4 linked regions of the Homo sapiens genome follow. The protein of the gene in region 1 interacts with the protein of each later gene in a biochemical or structural test. Each region holds a gene or a part of one and is shown on either strand. Other genes may lie near its edges.

The links.
Region 2: the proteins of MPDZ (region 1) and HTR2A form a complex in vitro, tested with the Homo sapiens proteins (2 studies listed by IntAct, with this or other methods).
Region 3: the proteins of MPDZ (region 1) and HTR2C form a complex in vitro, tested with the Homo sapiens proteins (3 studies listed by BioGRID and IntAct, with this or other methods).
Region 4: the proteins of MPDZ (region 1) and KIT form a complex in vitro, tested with the Homo sapiens proteins (2 studies listed by BioGRID and IntAct, with this or other methods).

The regions. Positions count from the first base shown.
Region 1 is NC_000009.12:13,104,030-13,109,932, reverse strand, and holds the end of MPDZ (multiple PDZ domain protein), read left to right. Parts: intron 1-873; coding exon 874-997; intron 998-2,821; coding exon 2,822-2,968; 3' UTR 2,969-4,226; downstream 4,227-5,903. UniProt on the Homo sapiens protein: Member of the NMDAR signaling complex that may play a role in control of AMPAR potentiation and synaptic plasticity in excitatory synapses. Promotes clustering of HT2RC at the cell surface.
Region 2 is NC_000013.11:46,892,900-46,902,315, forward strand, and holds the start of HTR2A (5-hydroxytryptamine receptor 2A), read right to left. Parts: upstream 4,155-9,416; 5' UTR 3,775-4,154; intron 3,336-3,774; 5' UTR 3,008-3,335; coding exon 2,596-3,007; intron 1-2,595. UniProt on the Homo sapiens protein: G-protein coupled receptor for 5-hydroxytryptamine (serotonin).
Region 3 is NC_000023.11:114,845,375-114,854,791, forward strand, and holds part of HTR2C (5-hydroxytryptamine receptor 2C isoform a precursor), read left to right. Parts: intron 1-2,628; coding exon 2,629-2,829; intron 2,830-9,417. UniProt on the Homo sapiens protein: G-protein coupled receptor for 5-hydroxytryptamine (serotonin).
Region 4 is NC_000004.12:54,737,669-54,743,344, forward strand, and holds the end of KIT (mast/stem cell growth factor receptor Kit isoform 1 precursor), read left to right. Parts: intron 1-760; coding exon 761-889; 3' UTR 890-3,047; downstream 3,048-5,676. UniProt on the Homo sapiens protein: Tyrosine-protein kinase that acts as a cell-surface receptor for the cytokine KITLG/SCF and plays an essential role in the regulation of cell survival and proliferation, hematopoiesis, stem cell maintenance, gametogenesis, mast cell development, migration and function, and in melanogenesis.

The sequences.
Region 1 (5,903 bases):
TTAGTGTATCATTTTTCACTTATGAATCAAGTCTTCCTGACAGTTGCGTTCTCTGTCCCATGTTTCTAGGAATTACGTACAGGTAAAATGATAGGATATATGAAGTGTGAATTATACATATCAGGTGCTTCTAAACTTAAATAATTGTGGCATGGATTTAGCTGATCAAAGATAAGTAGAGATAGATAACTAGCTAGATAGATATGCGTGCTACTACCCTTCCCATGGTTTCAGCTCTGATTTTGGGGCGGAGGACATTTTAGTCTTGATGTTACCACTTCATGTAATATGGAGCAAGTCAAATCTATCATTTTAAAATTTCCCGCACTGCCTATTCATCTAATATATTATCATTTGGACTGAAAAAATTCACAGTATTAAGTAACAATACTTGGATACAAAAGCATTGGAAAACAGAGGAGAAGAGAGAGGCGCATTAGAAATTTTAAATAATTTGATGCAGCTTTTCCATTGCTTATAATTGATTTTTCTCTCTGAGCTTGGGCGTACTGATGTTTATGACTTATTCTAATATAGTCCCCTGAACTTTAGCCCTCTCACTTTAAATAAACTGGAAAAAGAATGAGCTTCTCTGTACAATGAGAACATGCCATGAATATGTTAGTTTAAGGGAACTGTAAATGAGTAATAGAATTAGGGTGTTAAGTAGGATTTCATTAGATTATGTAAATTTAAAATACCAAGCACAGCATGCACTGACAATTTAAGCATCTCAAAAATACCCGTAATATACTCCTTGTCAGTAACAAAGAGAATTATGCTAGCTCTAGGTGGATGTCAGATAATTCATAACATATATGTATAGTTTTTTTTTTTTAATTTAAAACCTCTTTTTCCTTTCCTTCACCGTAGACCTCCTCAATGTAAGTCTATTACACTAGAGCGAGGACCAGATGGCTTAGGCTTCAGTATAGTTGGAGGATATGGCAGCCCTCATGGAGACTTACCCATTTATGTTAAAACAGTGTTTGCAAAGGTAAGCTTGCAAATTTTAACCACCCTCTTTTCCCCTAAACATTCATTAATAGTGGTCAGCAGCTGGCTTATTAGTTTATGGCCTGAGGTAATGCCAAATGGTTAACAGTTGATCATTTCTTTTCAAAACTCCCTACAGGAACAGGTCATTAAATATTTTTGTCCAATTTGAGGTTTCATTATATTTAAAGGAAAATAGGCTCAAATTGAAACTCCATGGAAACTCAACAATATACATAAAAATATTAATGAACTTTGGTTAGTAAAGCCTATTTTTTTTTCTTTGAACACAAATTGCACATGATCGTCTTTTGAAAATGGGACATTTTAAATAAGTATGCTGTAGAGCACTGGTATTTCTGTTTGCATTTTTTTGTTGTGAAATATAAAATAGTTATAGAGAAGTACATAAAGTACACATGAAAATTAATAAGCATTTATTTTATAAATTTAATTTCATTGAATAAAACAAAAATAACTACTGAAAAAATGTAGGGAGTATCCAGCAGCCCTATCATCTATAATAAGTCAGCGATTTGCAATCAAGGGATTCAATTAAAAAGACTGTATAGTTATAATTATATAATACCTATTCTAGCTTAAGAAGGTTTAGAATAAGAATAAAGATATTGCAGTACTGGTAAAGCTATTAAAATAATTTAAACCCATGTAATTATTGTTAATATGTTAAGTCGTTTTTCAGGGGCTACAAAATTCGACAAGATTTTCTGCAGGGAAAAATTTAGAATCTCAAAATTTTACAGTGTCAAAAGAAACAAAACTTAGTCAAACGTGTTTAAAAATTTGATACAGGGCCTTTGGATTAGTGGTATAGTTCTTTATGGATATTTTATTTTATTATTTTGGAAAAGATCTTTTTTTTAGCCAATTTAAAGTGTTGTACCTACAACAAGCTAGCTATAGGCTTAATTTATAAGATTTTTAAAAAAGCTATCGGTATGTCCAAAAATACAAACAGCATTTGCTAGTGAATAGAAGAGTCATACAGTCCTTTTCCTCAGCCTAGGAACAATTTATTTAAGGCATGCTAGTTAGAACATATTTTAAGAATTTCATCATTATGGATTCCTCATTAACTTTTCCATATTTTTAATTTTATATTTAATTGCATAATTGTCTTCTATAAGCGTGCTTTAAGATGGGGTTCTTTTTCTAACACCAATGTCTGTATTTAATCTTAATCATTTAGGGTCCATAAGGAATATGAAGAATCTCTCTACCCTTGGGAAGTAAGAACTAAGACAGCTTGAATAGCTTTTTCAAAACCACAAAAAGAAATAGCAGTGGGTTTTAAATTTAGAACTTATGCCTTATCCTGCCATAGGGAATGTTCAGGTGGCTTTGTGCTTTTGCAGACCTTTGGATTTTGTCATCCCCCAAGCCCTTGTCCTGTAAAACTGTTTTTGTTCCTACCTAATCCTTTACCTTCTTTCTGTAGGTCTTATTTACAGGATAGAAAATCCTGGATTCTATTGAATCATTCCTACTAGGCAAATTCCCAAATATTCTTTATTAATTTGTGTTCCCACCAACTGCTGTGCTGAACAGCCAAAAACCCATCCAACTGATCTATCGACTGCTAAATTCTCTCTCAAATTGGTATCTCAATGCTAAAACCATTTAGGAGAAAGACCTTCTTTGTCTATGTTCATCATTGCTTAATGGCTTAGAGCACCCATGGAGCACTGGGAGCAGTGTGTGTGTACAAGCAGAGCAATTTACATTCCTGTTGAGATCTTTTTCTGTTGTGAGTTGCAAGGCAGCATTTTTTGAGAAATAAACAAGTCTACTTTATAATTTGCAGGGAGCAGCCTCTGAAGACGGACGTCTGAAAAGGGGCGATCAGATCATTGCTGTCAATGGGCAGAGTCTAGAAGGAGTCACCCATGAAGAAGCTGTTGCCATCCTTAAACGGACAAAAGGCACTGTCACTTTGATGGTTCTCTCTTGAATTGGCTGCCAGAATTGAACCAACCCAACCCCTAGCTCACCTCCTACTGTAAAGAGAATGCACTGGTCCTGACAATTTTTATGCTGTGTTCAGCCGGGTCTTCAAAACTGTAGGGGGGAAATAACACTTAAGTTTCTTTTTCTCATCTAGAAATGCTTTCCTTACTGACAACCTAACATCATTTTTCTTTTCTTCTTGCATTTTGTGAACTTAAAGAGAAGGAATATTTGTGTAGGTGAATCTCGTTTTTATTTGTGGAGATATCTAATGTTTTGTAGTCACATGGGCAAGAATTATTACATGCTAAGCTGGTTAGTATAAAGAAAGATAATTCTAAAGCTAACCAAAGAAAATGGCTTCAGTAAATTAGGATGAAAAATGAAAATATAAAATAAAGAAGAAAATCTCGGGGAGTTTAAAAAAAATGCCTCAATTTGGCAATCTACCTCCTCTCCCCACCCCAAACTAAAAAAAGAAAAAAAGGTTTTCTAATGAAAATCTTTAAAAATACTGTCAGTATTTTAAAATTTTCAACAGTATTATAAAAACATTGCATCTCCCCACCTCTAATATGCATATATATTTTTCCTGCTAAAATTGGTTTCTACAATTGAGTAAATGGCAAATACATGAAGCAATGTCCCTAAATTTTATAAAGAAATTATATTTAATGCACATTTCAATTTTCATTCTTATTTTTGACCTTTTGTAAAATATTTTCATGTTGCTATAAGTAAATGATGATGCCACCCCATGTTGACTATGGTTTTTCTAGAAAGCAACTATGCTGCTAACCATAGAGGAACATAGAAGGGTTCCAGAATCTTTAGTGCTGGTTTTAACAACCGATGCAACATTAAAAATGTGTTAGTGTGCTGTGCAATTGGTTTTCAATTCATATTAATCTTAATGACAGAGAACAATGTGTTACTAATTATTTTGGTTGTATGCCATTAGTAAATTGATAGAAAAATTAAGGGGATTAACATAACTTCATTTCATTGACTTATATTAACATCTTATAATACAATAGTTTAAGACTAAGGGAAACAGATGGAGCTGTTTATTGAGACAACTGGTGAGGAATTATCATGTGTTCATTCCCATTTTAGAGCGTGAAACTCCTACATTAGAATATATAAAGTCACTTTAAATATCTATATTTGTAACAGAAGTAGTGTACAGATATTTTATTACAGCATTTTTGTGTAAATGCAGAATTAAAGTGAATAAATAAGAATTTTCAGTGGTGCACAAATAAGCAGCAAGCATTTTTTTTGTTCTTTTTACTGTGGAAAAGCTTTGTTATATACTGTTCAAGATTTACAACTTAAAATTGGTTTTTATCATGTCTAACTGCACATATGGTGTCCATAGTTACAGCTAAAGGAACTTTGGACAACATCATTATGGAAAGCTTAATATTTTTTACCTCCACAATTTTTTCTAGCACTAAAGATTCATAGACTCCTCATAGATGAGAGGAAGATGACATTGTAGAAAGAGAAGTATCCTGCCTGTATATGTTTTTCTCAAATGCTGTTAATGCAGTAATATTGTAAGTTGCTCTTTTGTGTGGTCAAGAACTATTCAAGTGTATTCAGATGGACAAAATCATAATCAAAATTATTTGTATTAATAAACATGACAAGTCCAACTTGAACACTGAGCAAGGAATGAGGGGAACTCTGTTCTACTAGTTTTGTACCAAATTAGCTAACAAACGTGCATTTCCCTCTCATTCATCTTATCTGTAAAATGATAGATTATTTTATCACAAAGGTTCTATTTAGTTCTAAAATATAAGAATTCCGTGATTCTTAGTTACACAAAACGAATAGAAGAAACTGCATATTGTAACAACTCAAAGTTGTTAACCAATCATTGTAAATTTAGGCGCTCAATGTAACAAAACTCATTTTAGTATCCCAGTGACACATCTACCTTCTTAGCCATCATTTAGTGGCTCTCCATAACGAAAGATGCCATTATTTCATGGTAGGCTGCTGGAAGATGAACTAACCTCACATCTGAGTTTGAGCTAGCAAAGAATTTTTATAGAGGATGCTCCATACCAGACTGTATGGGAGAAAGCCACCCAACCCCTTCAAGTTTCATAATGTCTAAGTGCCCCCAACAAGAACAGCCCAGTTTAAATAGTGTCTTCCCATGATTCATGTCCATCTGGAACCTCAGAACGTGACCTTTGGAAATGGGGTCTTTGCAGATGTAATGAGTTAAGTTCATGCTGATTTAGGGTGTTCTCTATCCTAGGACTGGTTTCTGTGTAAGTAGGTATTGTGAAGGCACAGACATAGGGAAGAAGGCCCCATGAAGATGGAGGCAAAACAAAACAAAACAAACAAGCCAAGGAATACCTAGGGGGCCCTCAAAAGCTGGAAGAGACAAGGAATGTTTTTTCCCTAGGGCCTTCAGAAAGAAGTTGGCCTTATTGACACCTTGATTTCAGGCTTCTGCCCTCTATACTGTGAGAAAATAAATCTCTGTTGTTTTAAGCCACAGTTTGTGGTACTTTGTTTAAGCACTGGGAAACTGTTAGAGTATCTTAAATGTTGGTTGCACGTGGTGGCTCATGCCTGTAATTCCAGCACTTTGAGAGGCCGAGGTGAGCTGATCTCTTGAGCTCAGGATTTTGAGACCAGCCTGAGCAACATGGTAAAACCCCGTCGCTACAGAAAGTACAAAAAACAAAAAAAAACAACTAGCCAGACAGCTACTCGGGAGGCTGAGGCAGGAGAATCACTTGAGTCTGGGAGGCAGCGGTTGCAGTGAGCCAAGATCGCACCATTGCACTCCAGTGGGCAATGGGAGTAAAACCTTGTCTCAAAAAAAAAAAAAAGTTTGTGTCCTGAGCTACTGTCATTATGTCTGGCTAACAGGAGAAACTCTGTGAGTAGCTATTAATTAACAAAGA
Region 2 (9,416 bases), on another chromosome or scaffold:
TTGTTAATGGCTTATGTCAAAATTTGTGTTTTGGCTCCTCTTCTGGAGCACCTCTCACACTGTACTGTCAGGATTTAGTCACATATTTCTCTGGATTGTATTTCCCTAAGGTTAGTCTCACCTCTTAGTCATTATTATAACCATCCAGTCCCATACAGTGATGGCAATAAATTGCATTAGTGCAAATGACTAAATGACTAAAAATTCAGATTGTGAATATGTCTGTTTGTAAAAATGAAAAATAATGATCTAATAATGCTTTGGGTGCCAAACTCAAATTTGGGGTATGTGTAGGGAGAGCTGAAGACAAGGGTGAAGAAAAATAAAGAAAGGTGTCCTTGCTCTGAGCTTTGTTTTAGGGAGGCATTTCTCAAACTTTAGTGAGCATCAGACTCTGCCACACCTCTTAAAACACACACTGCTGGACCTCCGTCCAGAGGTTCTGATGCAGTTAGTAGGGAGCAGGCTGTAGAATTTGCATCTGAATTAGCAAGCTCCCGGGTGATGCTGATGCTGCTGGTCCAGGGACCACGCTTTGTGAATAGCTGCTTTAGGGTAGTGGCTCTCACCCCTGGCTGCACATCAGTATCAGCTGGAGAGCTTTAGAGAAGGTCCTGATGCCCATGCCAAACCCAGCCCAATTAAATCATGTTTGGAGGGTGGGCTGAGGTGGACATCAAATGTCAAAGCGTTTGCAAAGCTTTTTCCAAGCTCCCCAGACAATTCCAATGTAAGAGATACTGCAGGTCACCTGCTATATGAGGAAGGTTAGAGTGTGCTTTATGGACATAAACAAAGTGTCCTGGTTTTGTGTTTTGGAGGGGGATTAAGCAGTTATGTAAACCTTAATTAGTTTTGATCACAGTATAAGCAGCGGAGTTAGATCTGCCTGCATGTAAGAAGGAAAATTTTAAAGTCCACTTTTCTTATTACAGACCCACAAAGCCGAACAAACTCCAACGCAAACGTACACTCTCTACCAAAATGCCACAAGGGATATTTAGACAAGTAAAGGGCGTAGGTACAAGCCTAATTTACAGCCATTCACATGTATTATTTGCAAAGAGCTTGAGCCGAAAGGAAAGCCTTTTCCTTTGCAGCGCCTTATGGGGGAAGCCACGCTCTGTCTGTTCGGAACAGATGTCGGCCCTCGGAGGGGTTTCTCTGCCAGGAGGCGGCCCAGGCCTCAGTCCGTGTTTCTGATGCGGGATAAGGAGGGGGCATTTCCTTGTGGGAGAAGCCCCATGCCCCACGCCCCGTGGGCTGGGGGAGGCTGGAGGAGCAGCCTAGGGAGGGGCGGGGCTCCGGAGGGAACGGGCTGCTCTCAGAGCGGCGGCCGCCAGGGGGCGCCCTTGCTCCCCAAGCGGGTGACGCCGGGGGTCACCCCACCCTCCAGCCTCTGTTTTGGGTCCCGCTCTGTCACTCCTCCTACCCCCACTGGAGTTTGCCCCCTAGGGGAGGGGGTTTGGGAAGCGAGAATCTTCCCCGGGATGCCGGGGAAAGGGCAGGCAAATTAAATGAAATCATTCCGGTGTGGCATTTAAATGGTCAAGTGAAGGCTGGACTTGGAATGAGTGTTACTAGCTTTGTGCAAACTGGCGCCTGCTCGCCCTTGCGTACCGCCTTCCTCCTTCACATTCTCTAGGGCTGGGTTGATGTTTTTTAATCTTAGCCCCTAAGACTTGACCAGAAAATTTCCCTTTAAAGATAGCTATCATAACCTGTCTCTAAGCTCTGAGTGACTGCTGCTTGTGCCTGTGTCAGCAGTCACAATAGTCTCTCCTTTAAGGAGGTATCTGGCTGTATTACTCATAATTTGGAAAGAATATCACATTCTGGTCCCTTGCTGAGAGGTCTGACTGTTTCAAACTCTGTTGAGAAGAAAGCAAGATTAATCCCTTCCCATTTGTTTCCCACCCTCCTCCAAACCAGACTGGAGGAGTTTATGCATATGCATTTTCAAAGAGTTGAGGATATAATTCAAAGGCACATTTCCAAATTAGCTTCTCTGGGCAGGGAACAATTAAAACTGGAGTAATTCATTTATTCTAATTGAGGTTCTGCATATTTTAACATAAAACCTATTGCACCACTAATGTTCTCTCTGCAAATGTTCCAAAGTAATTGGGAAGGCTTTATCACTCCATTAAAAGTGCTGAAAACTGTGTGACAAAGATTAAAACTGTTCTGTCCTGAAGGCTGGAATATTGGTTGGGAATATAAAGAAGCAAAAATCAAGTAGATTCAGAATGATGGGTAAGTTATTGGTTTATGACTGTATGGGGTAATTTATAAAAATTTCTACATTAAATGTACATGTTTTGAAGCACAAAACTCTCCAATGATCATTTTTACACAGGATGTACGCGTTTTGAAGCACAAAACTCTCCAGTGATCACAGGTCATAGACTGTCTGATTTTTATGTGAAATCCCATTTTAAGAGTAAAATATAAGTAACATAGTAGGCTCTAGTCTATAAACAAAGACTTCTATTTATAGTTTGTTTGCCCCCTGAGCCCCATCTCATCTGCTGGTGGCATGCACATGCTCTTTATTACCAGTGCGAATATAGCTGGGAAACTAATGCCACTCACCATACAGGATGGTTAACATGGACACGGGCATGACAAGGAAACCCAGCAGCATATCAGCTATGGCAAGTGACATCAGGAAATAGTTGGTGGCATTCTGCAGCTTTTTCTCTAGGGACACTGCCATGATGACGAGTATGTTTCCAGCAATAGTTAGAATAATCACTACGGCTGTCAGTAAAGCAGACCAGTTTTTTTCCTGGAGATGAAGTAAGGAGAGACACGACGGTGAGAGGCACCCTTCACAGGAAAGGTTGGTTCGATTTTCAGAGTCGACTGTCCAGTTAAATGCATCAGAAGTGTTAGCTTCTCCGGAGTTAAAGTCATTACTGTAGAGCCTGGTGTCATCATTTAATTGCATTAGGGAGTTCGTAGTTGAGCTCAAAGAAGTATTTTCTTCACAAAGAATATCCATGTCTAAGCCAGAACTTGTAGCAGATGAGGTGTAGAAGGACTAACAGGTTATAGTTTCTGCTCACCATTCACCTTGATGTACCCACACTCTGTAACACTGAGGCTGGTGTACATGCTGTTCTCCCGGGGCTGGATTTTTGTCTTCCATTATTACAATGATAGTTAAAGAACTGAACTGTGGTGGCTGTAAGTTTTCTTCATTCACAATTTTAGGAGAGTCCACTGTTTGGTTTTATTATTTTCTCACCAAACCGAGGACAAAAAAGCAGAATGAACTTTTAGCATAGAGGTTGCAGGGTTTTTTTTGAGCGCTCGGGAAGATAAATGTCCTGGACAAAGAAGAAAAGTTTTATAACTACTGGGACTCTTGTTTAACTATATCTCATTTTGTTGGTTATGCCGATGGTACTAGTTTAGCAACAGTATTATTAAAATAGCATGCAATCAGAAACAGTGGGGATGTACACATTCTACATTAAGAAAGTCAATTAAAAATACATCCAGTGTTAATCCCATAGTAATTGGATGTACTTTGGGTTACAGTTCTCAGCCATTCTTAAGCTGAATTGCCACAGCTGCTGTCAGGAATTTCAGCTCCTATAATGTTGCTTAGCTAATAAAAGGAAAACAAAAAAGTCTTAAGTAAAGATTAGCAGACAACTTTCCTCCCTGGAAATTCTCATTGAAATGATTACATGTTGGCCAAGCATGATTTCAAACCGGAAAGAAAATTACACAGCAATAAAATATAGCGGCATGAGAACTTACATTTGTCTTCAGGGTCCACACATGAGATACATTTGTTATTCTGTGACTCGCTGCATCTCTCACAGTAATTAAACTGGTGTAGAGTCCCCTCTTCTTGATCTTCCACCAGCATAATATGATAGTAATTTGGTTTCTGTTTTGCTGACTTCAAAAACTGCATGCAAGAGCTGAGCCAGCTCCCGCACTGCTAGGATCCTGTTGGCTTCCTCTGGCACGGCTCGGCTGGGTTCCTCCCTCCCTGTGCGGCTCGCCTCAGCAGGCACACATTTAGAAATCATTCACGAGCCCCTCAAAGTCGCACAAAAGAACTGCATGGGAAAGTAGGAAGAGCTGTCTGCACCAAGGGACTCCTGGTTTCCACGGGAATGGAGTAGCTCTCTGACTGTCTCGTTCATTTCATCAGACCTCCCTCTATGTGTATGTCATAAGCTGCAAGGTAGCAACAGCCAGGAGGGCGGACCAAACAGGCTTTTTCTTCTCCCTCTTTTTGCTACATATTAATATTGGGAAGTTTTCCTTTGCTTTTGAGAGAAACTGGAGAAATGGCCTTTTGTGCAGATTCCCATTAAGGTAGGTAAGTGGCACTGTGGTAATTTTTTAGGCTGAAGGGTGAAGAGAGAACATAAATAAGGCTAGAAAACAGTATGTCCTCGGAGTGCTGTGAGTGTCCGGCACTTCCATCCAAAGCCAACAGTGTTTGTGTCCAGAGTGGAATTACTGACATTGGCCACATAGGCTCAGGGTGGCTAGGCACGTCTGTGGTGATAACTCTGATAAACTATTAGCACTATTTTTATTTAATAGATACACCATTGAACTGGCTTATTTTCTTCAGCAGAAATATGCCACCCAGATATTATTCAAAACCTCACATGTGGTAGGAAATAAGTTGGTTTCGCAGTACCAATTTTTTTCCCCCACCAGTAATGACAACTTGCCTTACTTGTAAAGAAAGCCCTTTCCCAAGTAGGTTTCTAAAGGAGGCAGTTCGATCTCTCTCTTTTTGCAGGCATGAAAATATTTTCCTCAATAGTTGGGTTTTGCTACAGTTCTATCACCTTCTGTTCTTCACATTCTCCCTGGACAAATTCAACCACTCTCATGCCTTCAATATGTTTGTGGCCAAGTCTGTACCTTCATAGCTGATTATTTCTCTCAGTTCCAGACCTAAATCTCTAGCTGCCCATTGGCTCCTTCCATGGTAGCCTGGGAGACCTTGACCTCAGCATCTTCCCTCACTCCGCATCCCCCTGCCCGGCTCTCAGTGCTTGTTCCTACCCATTGGCTTGCATGATGGAATCACCACCTCTTCAGACAGCTGCTGTTATCCGCGACTCTTCCTTCATTCTCGCTGCCAGATCCCACTTCGTCTCCGGTGCTACCTCTGTATGCGTGTTTCTCACATGTCCTCTCCTGCAGCCTGCAGCTGGCACCCTGTGGTCGAGATCTAGCCACCTATTTCCTGGGTGGGTGCCTTAGTGCCCCCCTCACTGCCATGCCTGCCACCCTCCTACCCCTCCACGTTAAATATGCACGCTGGCGAGCAGGCAGCGGAGAACACAGACCTTAGAGTTCCTTGGTTTTGGATCCTAGCTCTATCACTCATAAACAGTAGAACCTCGCCTCATCTAGTTGCTCCCTTTAAAGCTCAGTCTTCTCACTTGTAAAATGGGATAATACCTTCCTCATAAGATTGTAGTGAAGCTAAACTGAGATAATGTGTGTAAGTATTTGGCCCATGTCTGGCTTATAGGAGGTTCTCAAGTAATGTCAGCCACTTTCATTCCTATTGATATTCTTACTGATATTAATGACACAATTGGCATCACTCCCATGCCTACACTCCTGCAGTCCCTTCCTTGTGGGGCACATAACACTTTTCTTCATCTACCTGTACCCTGCTTGCCCCACTTTGCAGGCCTGGACTCTGGTTACTCTCCCAGTCAGCCTGTATGCAGACTGAACTTACATGTTTCTGACCATTTTTATGTCTCTGTACTTGTACTTCCCTGTGCCCGGAGTGCTCTTACCATTCCTTTTTTGTGTGTGTCCATCTGGCAAATTCGTGCTTAGTTCCAGAGCAGCTCTGGATCCCAGGCCTACCACTCACCACATCTGTAAGCGTGATTAAGCTACCTAATCTCTGTGTTTTAGTCTCCTCATCCGCAAGTAGGGAACATTAATAATAAAAAGACCTCAGGATTGACGTGAAAGCCAAATAAATTTACATATTTGCCTGGCACATTTTAAGCACTCAATAAAGGTTAGTTGCTATTATTCTTACTAAGTTTACTGTTCCTAAGCTTTCTGTAGCCCTCCTTCCCAGTGGAGGCAAAGACTATAGCACCTTCTGCAGCCTTCTATTTTTAACACATCATGTCTCATGTAAGCCTCATAAAGGCAGGAACTGTGTCTATCTTGTTAACAGCTGGGCGCATAGTGCTTAAGTATGTTTGTTGAATGAATGCATGACATCTGTGTAAATGTCTGTCTTCTCTATTAGATGTTGAACTTCATTTCCATACCCTTAATATAGATGTAATCTATATTACATCTATCTTATACTATTATATTATCCACCCAGATGCAATTCATAAACCTCACATGTGGTATCTAAGCATGGTATCTCATAATGGAAGGTCCTCAACAGATGTGTTCTGACTGAATTGTTATTAGCATAAATTAAGATGAATTGATTATTAAAAAGGAGAACCAGGGAGAAACTTAGAACCTCTCATTTTTTCTTGTTACTTTGTTTATTGGGATACCAATTTAATTTTATTAAAGATAGCAGAGGGAAATGTAATATAAAAAATACTCCAGTGTCAGGAAGTTATTCAAAAGTTTTCTGAGGTTAAATTTTATAGATGTTCTTGTTATAGCTCTTAGAGAATTCTGATGATCTCAGTCCATTATTTCTCATGAAGAACAGCTAGGCTTCTAGTCATGCCAAAACTAATCAGTGTTTCTTATTATGTGGTTTACACTGGGAAATATTTTTTTGGCTACCATCTAAGATTATTTCTAGTTTTTATTGCAATTTTATGAATACTTGTTATGGACAAAGCAGTAGGGGCATAATCTAGGCTCCTGATTCTTAAACAGAGCTTCTAGGTTAATAGCATGAGGGTTAGATTAGGTAGGAATAGTTTCTTGCTGGGCAGATGCCCCTGTGAGTTTGGTGAGACGAGTGTGTGTTGGCTGCTGTAGTGCGCACCGTGATGCCTCGCCCAGCTTCTGCTTCAGGGCTGAGACTCGGGCTCCCTGCTGCTGGAAGGATTGGTGGCTGGCTCTCCACTCTTTCTGTGAACACTCCCCTCAGCCAAGGAAGCCAGCTTGCCAGTGGTCATGCCCCTTCTCTGTGGCAGCCAGCATGCAAAGACTGGTCCATTGTGAGGATATAAAGGGCTGGCCCTCTTGCCTGATGGCTGAAGAACTTTGGTTCCAGTGCTTCTATGGGATTCACTGAGGCCTTTGTTGTGTCAAATCCAAGTTAAATATCTCCCCTTGTCCAGTCTGGCTTCTCTTGCTCCCCTGCCGGTGTTGATCTGAGAGCTCGCCCCACACAAATCTCTTGCACACACATCAGTCACAGAGTCAGCTTCCTGGGGAGCTCAACCTATGACCTATCATCTTTAGCTGTGTATTAATGCCTTGAATAACATCTCTGGGTGAGTTGGATGTCTTACACAAAACAGATAAGTGTTGTCTATGTGATGATGAATGATGCTTCCTTGCCATAAGCTTAGAATTCTTCAATATACATCTGGCTTTGCTATCTAATTACTGCCAGAAGGAATTTAAGGTTAACAATACCAGAACTATATTTATTATCTTGGGCAGAATTTCTCTAGTTCTTAATTGGACCATATATAGGAATACATTTTATAACTAGTTCATTTTGGAAGATTCACTAGAAAGTGATTGCTTAAAATTAGATGTTAATATTTTCTCAATGACTTCAGTGGTATTTGTAGCCTTTGTTTGAATTTTTTTCCAGGCTAAAGTTATTGGGTTTCTGAAACTGTAGTGTCTTACATATGTCAATGTATATGAGAAAAAAAGGTTCCTTGACCAATTAAGTCTGGAACATTACTGTATCTTATAGTCTCCTCTTAGAAATATACAGTGCATAATTGCATATTAAAAGCTGTAAGAGATCCTGCAGTAAGGAAATTTGTTTATATTTATTTCATTCCTCTTCATCCAGAACACTCATTGAAAGACACTTTAATTTTGTCTAAATTGAGTTATATTTTAAATTTATTAAAACATAATGCTCTTAAGTATACAATTCACTGAGTTTGACAAATATGTACACCCATGTAACCATCACCCAAATTAAGATATCCACCATTTTCATCATTTTTGAAAGTACTCTCCTATCCTTTTTTGACTTTAACTTAAATGGACACATGTGGCCCTCCTTCCTAGTGGAGGCAAAGACTGTAGCATCTTCTGCAGTCTTCTATGTCACGCTTCTTTCACTCAACAGTGTATCTGTGTGTTCATCCATGTCACTGTGATTAAATGATTATTTAATGGATTGTAGTCTGAGAAACTGAAATGGCCTGGACATTTGGGGTTTCAACATTTATTTTTTTTCTTGTTCAAAGGAACATAGAATAGGTCCCTTTTCTTTGTTACGTTTGTCCTTTTTAAGCTGCTTAATTTTGCAAGACAGTGCCAACCTTAACCTTCACTCAATTGATTATGCCTGATTTTGTTATGAATTGGCAGCATAGAATTCTTTTACTCTATGATATTTAAGAATATGTCTCTAAGATTTCTGCTGCTCAAACATTACTAATGGCCTGAGAATGAGGAAAAAAATATTAACAGAGGGTTTACTGACTGACATTTTATCTATCACTTCCTTTTGGTGCTCTGATACTTAGGTTTGGAACAAGCCAGACCATCGGACCAATGTATATTTAGAAAACAATATCATGAACTGCCTTCTATTATGGCACTGGCTTGTATCTAAAAAAAAAAACTACTTGAAATTAGCTAATGACTGTCATCTATCTTTTTAATTTTCTCACAGTGGCACCGAGTTGAACAATATTCATTAATTTAACAGTTGATAATTGACTGCTGTGTCAAGCACTATTATAGGTGCTGAGTATAACCATGAAGATGAGCATAGTTCCTGCCTTCATTCATTCAAGAAATAGTTGGCAGTAGCATGGATGAGTACAGAGTTTAGGGAAGAGACATCAAATAGCCAATGGCATATTGGTATTTAAGGTATGCTACTAGGTGAAATCATCTAAGAGAGTGAGTGGAGATAAAGAAGGGAAGAGGTCTGAGAACTCAGCCATGGATTACTGCAATAGTTTAGGTCAGAGAGTGTGGAGGAACCTGCCAAGTAGAATGAAAAGGGGCACCCAGTGAGTTAGGAGAGACACAAAGAGAAAGTGTAATCCTAAAGTAAAAGAAAAGAAAGATGGCCAAGAAGAATGAGTATGCAACTGGGTGAAATGCCTTCTGACCAGCTGAGTATAATAAGGACTGAGAAATCACCGTAAAATTTGTCAAAATGGTAGTCTTTGGTGGCCTTGATAAGAACTGTTCCAGTGGAGTAGTTGGAATAACAGCCCAATGGAATGGGTTCAAGAGGGGAGGGGGAGGGAAGCAAG
Region 3 (9,417 bases), on another chromosome or scaffold:
CAGAGGGAAATTTATATCTGTAAATGGCTACATTTAAAAATAAAATGAACTCAATTAATGACCTAACTTTATACCATAAGAAACTAGAAAAGTAGAGCAAGTTTAACCCAAACTCACAAAATAACTGAAATGATGAAGTTTAGTGGAAATATAAAAAATAAAGAATAGGAAAAATATAAGGACAATTAATAAAACCAAACGTTTTCCTTTTTTTGAAAAGATCAAAAAAGTTGACAAATCTTTAGATAGACAGACTAAGGAAAAAAGAGAAGACACAAATTACAAAAATCAGAAATGAAAGTGGGGGTATTACTACTAACCTTACAGAAATTAAAAGGATTGGCTGGCCAATCCTCCTGGTGTGGTATCTCATGCCTGTAATCCTCGCACCTTGGGAGGCCAAGGTGGGAGGATTACTTGAGCCTATGAGTTCAAGAGCAGCCTAGGCAACATGGTGAAAACCCATCTCTACAAAAAAAAATTTAAAAATTAGACAGGTATGGTGCCACATGTTTGTGGCCCTAGCTACTCAGGAGGCTTAGTTAGGAAGATTGCTTGAGCCCAGGAGGTTGAGACTGCAGTGAGCCATTATTACACCACTGCAAACTAGCCCAGACAACAGAGCAAGATCCTATCTCAAAAAAAATTAAAAGGATTATAAAACAATACAATGAACAATTATACACCAGTAAATTAAATAACCTGGATGAAATGTAAAAATTTCTAAAAACACACATACTACCAAAAGTGACTCAAGGAGAAATAATCTGAAGAGTCATATAAAAAGTAACTACATTGAATCAGTGATCAAATACCTCTCAACAATGAAAGCTCAAGACAAGAAGTTTTCCTTTTGAATTTCACCGAACATTTCAAAAATTAACACCAATTCTTCTCAAACTCTTCTAAAAAATAGAAGATGAAGAAACATTTTGTAATATATTCTATTAGACTGGCATTATCTTAATATCAAAGCCAGCTAAAGACATTACAAGAAAATTATAGATTAGTATTGTTTATTAATATAAATGCAAAAGTCTTCAATAAAATACTAGCAAACTAAATTCAGCACCATATTATATACCCATTACTAAATGGGATTTATCTCAGGGATGCAAGAGGGATTCAACATACAGAAACTAATCAATGTAATGTATCACATTAATAGAATGAAGGTATGCAAACCACATGATTATGTCAATTGATGCAGAAAAAGCATTTGCAAAAGTCCATCACTTTTTTATGATAAAAAAATGTTCAACAAACTAGGAATAAAAGAAAATGTCCTTGACAGGCATTTATAAAAAACAAAAACAAAACCCAGTCAATAGTGAAAGACTGATTTTCCTCTAAGATCAGGGAAAAAAGGCAGAATGCCCAACTTCATTAGTTCTATTTATCATGGTACTGAAAATTCCATGTAGAGAAATTAGGCAAAGAGAGGAAATAAAAGGCAGAGGAAAATTGGAAAAGAATAAATCAAATTATTTCTATTTGCAGAAGACATGATCTTATATATGGAAAATCCCAAAGAGTCAACACAAAACATAGCTCTAATAAATGAATTCAGCAAAGTTGCAGGACATTTGTAGTTCTATACACAGTGATGAACAATCCATGAAAGAATTTAAGAAAACAATTCTATTTACAACAGCTTCCAAAAAAACCTCAATTGATAACAGCATCAGCCACAAAGAAGAATTAAGTATTGATACATGCTACGAAATAGATAAACCTCAAAAACATTAGCTAGGTGAAAGAAGCCAGACCCAAAAAGTCACAAATTGTATGATTCTATTTATATGAAATATCCAAATTAGTTAAATCCATAGACTGGATTAAGAAAATGTGGCACATATACACCATGGAATACTATGCAGCCATAAAAAATGATGAGTTCATGTCCTTTGTAGGGACATGGATGAAATTGGAAATCATCATTCTCAGTAAACTATCGCAAGGACAAAAAACCAAACACTGCATGTTCTCACTCATAGGTGGGAATTGAACAATGAGAACACATGGACACAGGAAGGGGAACATCACACTCTGGGGACTGTTGTGGGGTGGGGGGAGGGGGGAGGGGTAGCATTAGGATATATACCTAATGCTAAATGACGAGTTAATGGGTGCAGCACACCAGCATAGCACATGTATACATATGTAACTAACCTGCACATTGTGCACATGTACCCTAAAACTTAAAGTATAATAATAATTAAAAAAAAAAGATAAAAAGCAAATTAGAGATTGCCAGGAGCTGGTTGATGGGAGAATGGGAAGTAACTGCTTAACGGTATGCAGTTTCCTTTTGGAGTGATGAAATGTTTCTGAACTAGAGACAGATGCTAGTTGCACAATATTGTGAATGTACTAGATGCCATTGGATTGTACACTTTAAAGAGATTAATTTTATGTTGTGTAAATTTTACCTCAATAAAATATATGTCACGCTGAAGGTATCATTATCATGATCACCATCATCATCCCTATAGAAAATAATGCTTCCTAAATTTCACTTTCTTTAAAAGGTTTAGATTATGAGAAAATATAAGCAGACTAAAATTTGAGACTATAGTCAGTACAATTTGGATGACGTGTTCTTGTCTTCTCTCTGTTCTCTTTCAGATTATGTCTGGCCACTACCTAGATATTTGTGCCCCGTCTGGATTTCTTTAGATGTTTTATTTTCAACAGCGTCCATCATGCACCTCTGCGCTATATCGCTGGATCGGTATGTAGCAATACGTAATCCTATTGAGCATAGCCGTTTCAATTCGCGGACTAAGGCCATCATGAAGATTGCTATTGTTTGGGCAATTTCTATAGGTAAATAAAACTTTTTGGCCATAAGAATTGCAGCGGCTATGCTCAATACTTTCGGATTATGTACTGTGAACAACGTACAGACGTCGACTGGTAACATTTGCGTTTGATCGGGTTCTTTTATTTAGTAATTATTCTTAACCTATTTATCTGATATTTAGGTTAACAATAATGAAAGGAATGTAATGTGTATTAATATGTAAATATAAAGTTTCCATTTATGCTGCTAAATTATTTTATGCATTAGTATGCCAATGAATTCTGCAACACAGATACAAAATGTTTGAAATATTTAAAATGCTTTGAAAATGAGAAAGACATAAAGTCTAATTAAAGTCTAAATTTTAAAAATATAACATTTCAATCTTATATTGAAAAGTTACATGTATCCCAGAATATTAACCTTAGTATTTTTATTCTAAATTCCTATCCTTTTCAGTAGAAAAATTAATAATGCAATCTAAATCATCATCAAGTAAATATGTCTAAATTTTTGTTGCTATGACACCTAAAATGTACTATTTTCTCTCAGTTTTAATTGTCTTCTTGAATTCTGGGTATACAAAAAGAAAAAAAAATTTGTTTCTTTAAAGATTTGTAGCAGTTTAAAGGGAAAGAAATGATCATTTATTGCTTATATTTGAGGTATTCATAAATGCCTTAACAGTGCTAATATTAAAGCCAAGAAATTTAAACAATTGGACTTTAGGGGTTTTACTTTCATGTTTTTTTCCTTTTCCAGTTGGTGTAAATAATTTTTCTTCATATTTATGTTTTTGTAAAGATTGAGGTAAAGTGTGCAACAAGATCAAGACTTCTATTTAATCTTCACTAATATCATCTAAATATTTTGACTCTGGGTTTATTGATCAAATACATTTAAGTTTTAAGATTGTTCTATTGTAGATTGTTCTGCCTGTGTATAGCATAGACACCTTTGAATAAAAAGTCGTGAAGCTTGTCCCAAAAGACAAAAATGAATTTACGTAAGTTTGACTTACAAATTCAAGAGTTCACAGATTTTGCCCTAGCCATCACAAAGAGTTCATCTAAAAAGATGCCAGCTTTTATGGTGCTTACAAAGGAAATACACAGACAGAATATTGTTGCATCAGCTTCTAGTAATGAAAGACTGAGTAATTTGCAATGACTCTTGTGCTAAAGGCAAATAAACACATGGATAAAACACTAAAAGCCCTAAGAAGCTAATGAAATAGAAATTGCTATTGGCTAAGATCCAGAAAAAGACAAAAACCCAAGAAAAATGATTATGACTTCTAGTTCACTTTTGCCAATGATGCATTATAAACCTGAAGATATGACTGACAGGTGGAGACGATCATTTCAGACTCGCAAGCAATGGAGGACTAGAGTAGGAATACAGAGTCTGGCAAGGGCCAACCAACCTGAATTTAATTCTGGGATCACAAAAAAACCAGACACTAGGAATAAGGATCGACCAGGATTAAATCACCATAGACATGGAATTCAGCCCTGGTTCAAGTCATCTATGTAAATGAGAGAAATCTTGGGCCTTAAAATTGGATTAAGATGATTTCGTATTATTCAGGTTTCCAATTTTGGGGCATAAACAAACAAAAAAAACCCCATAATCCTAGATTTCAACTTATTTCTTTCAATAATTTTCAAATGCTGTCACTGAAATACAATGATATGCAGATATATGAGGAGACAATACAACATGAATCAGGTATGGGACAATAAGAGATAACAGAAATAAACTTACAAACACTTCAGATAATTGAATTATCAGACATACACTTTAAATAATCATTTGGAATGTGCACATGGAAATTACATGCTGATCTTAAACACTTCAGCAAGAAACTGCAAACTATAACAAATGACATTAAGATTTGAGAAACACCTAGAAAATATGGAACTTAAGCATAATATGAAAAACTAAGGGCCAGGCAGTGTCTTACACCTGTAATTCCAGCACTTTGGGAGGCCGATGCAGGCGGATCACTTGTGGCCAGGAGTTCAAGACTAGCCTGGACAACATGATGAAACCCCATCTCTACTAAAAATACAAAAATTAGCCAGGTATGGTAGCACACGCCTGTAATCCCAGCTACTTGGGAGGCTGTGGTGGGAGGATCACTTGACCCTCAGAGGTCAAGTCTGCAGTGAGCTGAGATCATGCCACTGCGCTCCAGCCTGGGCAACAGAGTGAGACTCTGTCACACACACAAAAAAAATTAATTAATTAAAAAATGAAAACCTAAGAACTCTGTGGCAGATTAGAGATGGCGAATTTCCAAATTTACAGAAGATTATTATAAAATATTAAAAATTAGCTGGGTATGGTGGCATGTGCCTGTAGCCCTAGCTACTCAGAAGGTTGAGGCAGGAGCATCACTTGAACTCAAGTGTCTTGAGGTTGCAGTGAGCTATGATCGTGCTATGACACTTCAGCCTTGATGAGAAAGCAACACTTTGTCTCTACAAATAAAAGATAAAATGAAATAATAAGATAAATCCAAAAGGAGTCAATAAAAGATAGAAAAATATAAAACGTATACTGAATGGCAGAATTAAAACCAAATATATCCCTAATTATATGAATTACTAAGGATTCTAAGACTGTCATATAGGCTTTCAAAAAAATAAGACAACTATATGTTACAAGAGGCATATATAAAGCATAAAGAAAGTAAAAGGATAAAAACAAACAAAAAAATTCCTCCATCTAAACACTATCCAAGAGAAAGACTGTATAGCTATATTAATATTTGTCAAAATAGACTTTTCGGCAAAAAACAAATACTCCAGTGAAAGAAGATTACTTACTATGAAAGATTTAATACATCTGGAAGACATAAGGTAATAAATTTGTATGTACATAATTATATGTAGATACATATGTAATATACATAGTATATACATTATAAAGTAAAAGAGGACAGAACTTCAGGGACAGATAGACAAGTCTACAATCATCGCATAAGATCTTAGCACATCCTTCTCAGCGATTGTATGAAAACAATTAACAAACCTGAACTCACTGACAAGTGAAGAATACATATTCCCATCATTGCACAAGAAATATTTATCAAAACTGACCATAAAGTAATTCCTCAACACATTCCAAAGGGTTGGAATAAATTGTTTATTCTTTGACTGAAATTCAAAAGAAATAGAAATGACTTCAAAATAGTAGAAAAACCTTCGTATATTTGGAAATTAAGAAATTGTTTCCCAATAAACTTTGACCTAATGGATTTCAAATCCATTGATGATTCTTCCCTAAGCTATCTATTACTAAGGTGATACAATGATAATTTTTCTCATTTTATTATTCTTCCTGCCTTTATTTGTTGGTATTATACTGTAAGGAAGTGTTTTCCCTCCAAGTCTTTGTTATTTATTAGTTCATGTTGGTGGAGACTCCTGGATTCTTTTGTATTCAGTGTAATATATATGATTCATTATTGCCCTTAATTATTTTGATGCTCAAATTGTCTCATATTTTTCTAATAAGAACTCCTTTTCATATATCCCATCAGCTTTTGAGCATTTGCCAGACTCACCTTTTACTTTCCATGCCCCAGTTCCGAAATTAGCCATTTCTTACAAGAAACCCTTTTAGTGGGCAATGGTTTTATAAAGCAGGATGCAGAAGCTCAGTATGCTCATTGCTAATAGGATATCATTGCTCCTATATATCAATACCTTTAATCCCAATTCACGAACACAGGACTCTTGCTACTTTCCAATTCTTTATTTTTCCTCATTTTTCTCACAGTGAGTAACTTTGTCCCCAAACCATTGATATATTTATTATTTATATTTTCTATATCCTACCATACAAGAAATTAATTTCAGAATTTCTATACCCATACCACTACCAATAAATGAAATGCAATGTTTAAAATTTCATTGCAATTTTATCTTTAGAATGTTTTCCACCAATGGCATATAGTCAAAGCATTGTCTTCAAAATGCTAGGATTAGTTTGAATTTTTTTTCTCTGTGGTTCTGATACCAATTGTTCACATTTAGGGATTTTGTTTTGTTTTTGCATGTATTCCCCAACCTTGTTGACTTTATTTTTTAATATGTAAAACTTTAATATGATGCTCCAACAGTCAAAACTAGGCAAATAAAATACTCAGAGAAGAGTCAGTTCCTCTTCTATTCCGTGGTTAACCCATTCATTAGTTTCTAGGGCATACTTCTTGAATTTATTTTTGCAAAAAAAAAAAAGATTATACACAAATACACGTATTGTTATTTTTCCATTCTTAAATTAAAAGTTAAAATGCTACATACAAATTAATACTTTGTTTTGCTTTGTTCTTTTACTTGGAAATATGTCCTGGAAATCACTCTATCAATTTGTAAGATGATAGATATGCACCCAACTTTATCATGTAAATGGCCTAAATACTCCAATTAAAAGCTAAATTCATTCTATTATTTTTTACACTCACTAATAATAGATTGTGTTGATATACTTTATTTAACCAATCTTCTGTGTATAATCAGGTAAGTTGTTTCCAACATTTGGAAGTTGCCAATAATTCTACTAAGAATAATTGTGTGTGTGTGTGTGTGTGTGTGTGTGTCCTTTGTGTGTGCGTGCGTGCATGTGTGTCTGTCTTGTGTGTTTGTGTGCGCGCGCGCGTGCATGTGTGTGTTTCATATTATTGGAAGTTTAACTTTTAAATAAATTCTTGCTCAAATGTATTCAGAATTTATCTTCTAAATAAATTCTTAGAGGAGGAGTTGATTGATCAAAGGGTACATGTAGTTAGGAGTTGAACCATTTTGCATTCCCACCAGCAATGCAAGAAAGCCTCTGTTTCCCCAAAGCCTTGCTAATGAAGTTTATTTTCAAACTTTTTAGATTTTGCAAATCCCATAAGTGAGAAATGTTACCTCAGTGTAATTTTAATTTGCATCTATTTTATTTGGCTGAAGTTCATATGATTAAATGTATGAAAACCACTTCAGTGCCATTGCTAAATCAGTTTTAAGTGTCCTTTTGCTCATTTTTTCTGATTTTTTTTCATTTTTATTTCTTAATTTAATAGCTCTTTATAAGTTATAGACACTAACCATTTAACATGTTATAAATGAAAATATTTTCTGTTTGCTATTTGATATAGCTATGGTATTTTGCCATACAAAATTATTTTATTTTCATGTAGTTCATCTTGTCAATCAGATTTCCTTTTTATGTTGAGAGTAATGGCAACAAATTCTTTCCCCTAACTCAGGTTGGACAATAAATCACACATATTTTTCTCATTTTTACATTTAGACCTCTGATACATTTGGAGTTTATTCTTGTACGTTGTGACATACACATTCAATTTTAGTCTCTTAAAACTAATTCTTCCATTGTCTCATGCTATTTATTTAAAAAGTCCATCTGTCCTGTGATATGAGATGCCATCTTTATAGTATATTAAATATTCTTATATGCCTGGACATGTTTCTGAAGTTCACATTTTATTCCACTACACTGTCTAATCAAATGCCAATTTCACACTTTTAATTATAAATGCTATTACATAAATGTTATTATCTGATATGGTTAGTCCCTATTCATTAGGCATTTTTTAGAGCTTGTGTAGACATTACTGAAAGTTTAATTTTCCATATTAACGTTAACATTAACTTGCCTTGTTCTATTCTAAAAGCCTGGATATTTTGACAGGGATCTCCTTAAATTTATAATTTAATTTAAGAAAAAATGAACAACTGAATTTTAAAAATGCTTTCTCTAATCTGTATACTAATTTAGGTGGTGGCCACTCTGTCTTCCAAACTTTACTGCCAAACCTATATGTCACTCTCATGTCTTCCTTATCAACATTTATAATGTATCTCATAAGAATCAATTTTTTAGCTTTACCACAAACCAAATCTGTCTTCTATGCATTCACTAGTGACTACTTAATTGTTTAATTTATGAATTTTCAAACTTTTTGGTCTAGTGATCTCTGTATACTCAAACATTATTAAGGATTCCAGAGAGTTTGCCTTTATATGAGCTATATCCATCAGCATTTAATGTCTTTGAAATTAAAATTGAAATTTTAAATTATTTTTGTCTACATTTATTTAAAATAACAATAGTAAATCCATTACATGTTAACATAAATAATTAGCTCTATTAAAAAAAGCTATATTTTCCAAAACAAAATCAACAAGAAGAGTGACATTGTTTTAGTTTTTTCTTTTTTTGACTTTTATAAATTTAGGGGGTACAAGTGCAGTTTTGATATATGAATATAGAGTATAGTGGTGAAGCCTGGGCTTTTAGTGTAACCATGACTCGGTAACGTACAATGTACCCATTAAATAATTTCTCATCCCTCTCACCATATACAAAAATTAACACAAAATGGATGAAATCCTTAAATGTAATATCTGAAACTACAAAAACACTAGAAGAAAACCTAGGAAAAAACTCTGCTGGACAATGGCCTAGGCAAAAATTCGTGACTAAGACCTTGAAAGCACAAACAACGAAAACAATAATAGACAAATGGGATTTAAACTAAAAAACTTCTATGCAGAAAATAAATAATCCACAGAGTGAACAGATAACCTGCA
Region 4 (5,676 bases), on another chromosome or scaffold:
GAAAAGACAGCTTGTTACTGCAGTGAAATAAGCCTTCTGATCAAACAAGCATAGCCAGAAAATGGCAGATAGCTGTCATGCCCACAAGCCATATAGAATGAAGAGCTGTTTGAAGTTGGGAGATCCCTCCCAGTGATTTGGGAAGTGTGGGGGAATGAAAACTCAAATCCATTATTTCCTCTCTTTTTAAGCAAGAATTAGTGATACTTTGACTCAGATTTTTTTAAGCTGCTTTCTTTCCTGGGCTGTGTGCTTGGAGCTATCTTTTCTTTCCTAATAGCACACCACTGATAATTTTTGGGTTAAAGCTTGTTCTTCTGGGTGTCAAAACATGTTTCAAATTGAACAGCATTTTCCACCCAGTTGCTTTGATTCTTGACAAGAGACCCCTGGAAGGGCCGTGGGTTTCCCAGCAAATTACATTGGTTATTGGGTTGTAGTTGCTGGAGAGATTTACAAGCCTTTTAAATAGGTAAGATAGTGCTTGGTGCCTGGTGTGCCCTTTTAGAAGAGCTAAGCTTGTGCATGTTTTGTCCCCACTTCTTGTATAAAGTTATTTCCTTGGAAAAATGAAGGGGGAAAACAAAGCTTATATTTGTTTTGTCAGTATGACTTGGGTTTTGGCCACAAAGTTCTTGGAAACCACTTCTCTCTTAAGAGTTTCCATCAGTTAGTTGTGATCTTGACACTGTAAGTATGCCTTTTGTTGCTATGTTCGTTGTAGGGACTGCTGTATTGACTATGGGCTTGTTTTCTCCAGATTTACTCCAACTTAGCAAACTGCAGCCCCAACCGACAGAAGCCCGTGGTAGACCATTCTGTGCGGATCAATTCTGTCGGCAGCACCGCTTCCTCCTCCCAGCCTCTGCTTGTGCACGACGATGTCTGAGCAGAATCAGTGTTTGGGTCACCCCTCCAGGAATGATCTCTTCTTTTGGCTTCCATGATGGTTATTTTCTTTTCTTTCAACTTGCATCCAACTCCAGGATAGTGGGCACCCCACTGCAATCCTGTCTTTCTGAGCACACTTTAGTGGCCGATGATTTTTGTCATCAGCCACCATCCTATTGCAAAGGTTCCAACTGTATATATTCCCAATAGCAACGTAGCTTCTACCATGAACAGAAAACATTCTGATTTGGAAAAAGAGAGGGAGGTATGGACTGGGGGCCAGAGTCCTTTCCAAGGCTTCTCCAATTCTGCCCAAAAATATGGTTGATAGTTTACCTGAATAAATGGTAGTAATCACAGTTGGCCTTCAGAACCATCCATAGTAGTATGATGATACAAGATTAGAAGCTGAAAACCTAAGTCCTTTATGTGGAAAACAGAACATCATTAGAACAAAGGACAGAGTATGAACACCTGGGCTTAAGAAATCTAGTATTTCATGCTGGGAATGAGACATAGGCCATGAAAAAAATGATCCCCAAGTGTGAACAAAAGATGCTCTTCTGTGGACCACTGCATGAGCTTTTATACTACCGACCTGGTTTTTAAATAGAGTTTGCTATTAGAGCATTGAATTGGAGAGAAGGCCTCCCTAGCCAGCACTTGTATATACGCATCTATAAATTGTCCGTGTTCATACATTTGAGGGGAAAACACCATAAGGTTTCGTTTCTGTATACAACCCTGGCATTATGTCCACTGTGTATAGAAGTAGATTAAGAGCCATATAAGTTTGAAGGAAACAGTTAATACCATTTTTTAAGGAAACAATATAACCACAAAGCACAGTTTGAACAAAATCTCCTCTTTTAGCTGATGAACTTATTCTGTAGATTCTGTGGAACAAGCCTATCAGCTTCAGAATGGCATTGTACTCAATGGATTTGATGCTGTTTGACAAAGTTACTGATTCACTGCATGGCTCCCACAGGAGTGGGAAAACACTGCCATCTTAGTTTGGATTCTTATGTAGCAGGAAATAAAGTATAGGTTTAGCCTCCTTCGCAGGCATGTCCTGGACACCGGGCCAGTATCTATATATGTGTATGTACGTTTGTATGTGTGTAGACAAATATTTGGAGGGGTATTTTTGCCCTGAGTCCAAGAGGGTCCTTTAGTACCTGAAAAGTAACTTGGCTTTCATTATTAGTACTGCTCTTGTTTCTTTTCACATAGCTGTCTAGAGTAGCTTACCAGAAGCTTCCATAGTGGTGCAGAGGAAGTGGAAGGCATCAGTCCCTATGTATTTGCAGTTCACCTGCACTTAAGGCACTCTGTTATTTAGACTCATCTTACTGTACCTGTTCCTTAGACCTTCCATAATGCTACTGTCTCACTGAAACATTTAAATTTTACCCTTTAGACTGTAGCCTGGATATTATTCTTGTAGTTTACCTCTTTAAAAACAAAACAAAACAAAACAAAAAACTCCCCTTCCTCACTGCCCAATATAAAAGGCAAATGTGTACATGGCAGAGTTTGTGTGTTGTCTTGAAAGATTCAGGTATGTTGCCTTTATGGTTTCCCCCTTCTACATTTCTTAGACTACATTTAGAGAACTGTGGCCGTTATCTGGAAGTAACCATTTGCACTGGAGTTCTATGCTCTCGCACCTTTCCAAAGTTAACAGATTTTGGGGTTGTGTTGTCACCCAAGAGATTGTTGTTTGCCATACTTTGTCTGAAAAATTCCTTTGTGTTTCTATTGACTTCAATGATAGTAAGAAAAGTGGTTGTTAGTTATAGATGTCTAGGTACTTCAGGGGCACTTCATTGAGAGTTTTGTCTTGGATATTCTTGAAAGTTTATATTTTTATAATTTTTTCTTACATCAGATGTTTCTTTGCAGTGGCTTAATGTTTGAAATTATTTTGTGGCTTTTTTTGTAAATATTGAAATGTAGCAATAATGTCTTTTGAATATTCCCAAGCCCATGAGTCCTTGAAAATATTTTTTATATATACAGTAACTTTATGTGTAAATACATAAGCGGCGTAAGTTTAAAGGATGTTGGTGTTCCACGTGTTTTATTCCTGTATGTTGTCCAATTGTTGACAGTTCTGAAGAATTCTAATAAAATGTACATATATAAATCAAGTGGAGTCATTTGATTGTTGAGATTCGTTGAGATTAAACTTTAAAGCATTAAAGTGCAATCATCCTGACAAAGTTTTGTACGCAGTTTTCATAAAATATGTGCAGGGCTATCAGATCACGCTAGGATTTACATGCTTCGAGATTCAACAGATATTAAGAATTTTCATACGTGTGATATTTTCTCATTTTAGTCTTACAACCTGAGGTCTCTATTTAAATTGAAAAATAGATACAGAGAAGGTGCTTAGTATGTATGAGCTGGGTGCTGTCATGTGGGTGAAACATTATGCATGCCCAATTGGTACCGTCCAGACCACTGGAACCCAAACAGAGGCTGAGAGTTCTTCAGCTTGAAACAAAAGGAAGCACCCTGAATCACATAATCTTATTAAGAATGAGGCACCCACACACCCTCAGTCATGACTGTCTTTATTGACGTGACATCTACACCTGCAGAAATGTCTCCTGAAAGGAAAGGGAAGGGGTGAAAAGTGACCTGTAATGAAAAGGAATCCTTTTAAAATCCAGAGGGAATTGTGTGGCAAGGAATGCGTCAATAATCAGTGAAAAACAGACCCACATTTCAGTCAGGCAATTCCCATTATTTTATTGCAGACAGGAATGAATGCTAATTGACCACAAAACAAAGAAGTCTTTTCTTTCCAAATGTTTTCACTGTCATTTAGCCTTTGTCATGTGTGAGAAATTTGCGTTAGAAGCAGTTGACAGTCCCCTGTGTTAAGAGTCTAGCTAATTTTCCTCACCAGCCTAGCTTTTCATTGGAAAGGAATACCAGGTCTTGGTGCCCAGGCTCAAACTTGGTTCGAATCTCAGTGCCACCCCTGTGTCTACCACTTAACCACTGTGTGACATTAGGCAGATTAGCTCTTGAAATCTCAGCTCATGGGAGTAGTGTCTACCTTGATGTATTAATGTGAGGCTGTCAAGACCAGCTCGTTCATATGCCTAATAAGTTTTTCCACGGCCAATTCACCTTATTAAGCAGGGAGGGCGGTGTTCCTGTACTGACATAACCCATGTAAAATTATACAGTCAAAAGCTTGATTCTAATTTTCTTTCTCTTAGGTGCAAACAGTATTGTACAAGTGTGTTGCACAACTTGACATTGCTATAAAGATTTCTGGGTGGTGGTGGTGGTTTTTTTTTTTTTTAATCCCAGTGTTTGACCAGGAATTCAAAGCTCTCTATTCTTGCTCCAGCCTTCCTTCCTACTTCTCTCCTATTATCAAAGGCCCATGAGTATGCCCCATGCTCTTCTCTGCTTCCATTCTCAGACTGCATACTGTCTCTTCTCTCCAGCAAGACCCCATCTTTCAAGACCAGCAAAATCATCTCAATGGGAAGCTGTCGCTGAACTCCCACAACACTCTTTACTTTTTATGGCTCTTACAATTGATTTTTTTATTATTTTGGCTTTTGTCTTGTCCCCACCCATACTATATCCAGACTTAAAATCGGTTAACATAAAATTCCCGTATGTGCCAGGGTTACTGGTGTCAGTGGTATCATTTACTTGTTAAATATTGAATTGTCCGGACGCTCAGGGGTTAAATTGCCCAAGAGGTTGCAAGAGTTACATTTTGCCCAAGTTCATGGAGCAGTACATGAAACCAGACTTGGAATCCAGATCTGTACCTCAGTGATGGCAAACACCTGGTCTTCCCATGCTGGTGTCTCCCACCACCCTGGCCATGCAGACATCACTCATCTGCCACCACACCCTCCAACTGAGCCCAGGTGCCTTAGAAGTCACAGTCTTTTCCAACAAGCTGATAGGAGTCAACTGGTGTTAGCCTGCAGAGAGACTTACCTGTCCCCCTTAAATGATGACCAAGTTTCCATCTTCCTGAGGGACAGATGTTCTTCATCTCAGACACCCCAAAGCTGCTAGCAGAGTACTTCAAGAGTGGTTCTTTTTGAACAAATAATTAAACATCCCATCAGTGTTTGGAGTGAGAGAGAGCCATTAGGGAGGAAATGGGCCCAAGAAAGAGAGGAAATAGAAGAAGACAGAAGCTAGTGAAGTTAGCTTAATTTCACATGAGGGGGGTGGCGCTTTGGGGAGAAGAGAAAGGGGAACTAGAAACATTCCTTCGGACAGCCTTACTGAGGCCTATACAGAGGCTTTGTGGGAACAAGGAGAAGAGAAGGAAAGGAGGGCGTTGGTAGTTGGGGAAGGGTGAAGAGGAAGGGAAAGTGGCAGGAGTGCTCTGCCTTATTCAGAAGTAGGGAGAGGAGCTGCAGCTGACAAGCAGTTTCAGGGCTTAAGGTGCAGAAGCTGAAGACAGGAAGACCGCACCACCCCACACTTGGTCTTGGAGAAGGTCAGCAGCACCAGCGTCTGCATGAGAAAATGCCCCATGGGAGAGGTCTCGGGATGAGCAAGGCTTCAGGAAGCACCACCTGGGCAGCCTTTGAGTGAACCTTTATGAAGAAAAGTGTATTGGTTTGCTAGGGCTGCCATAACAAAGCACTTGAAACTGGCTGGCTTCCATATGGAAATTGATTGTCTCACAGTCCTGCAGGCTAGAAGTCTTGAGATCAGGATGTCGGCAGGGTCGGTTCTTTCGGAGCACTGTGAGAATCTGTCCCATGCCTCTCCCAGCTT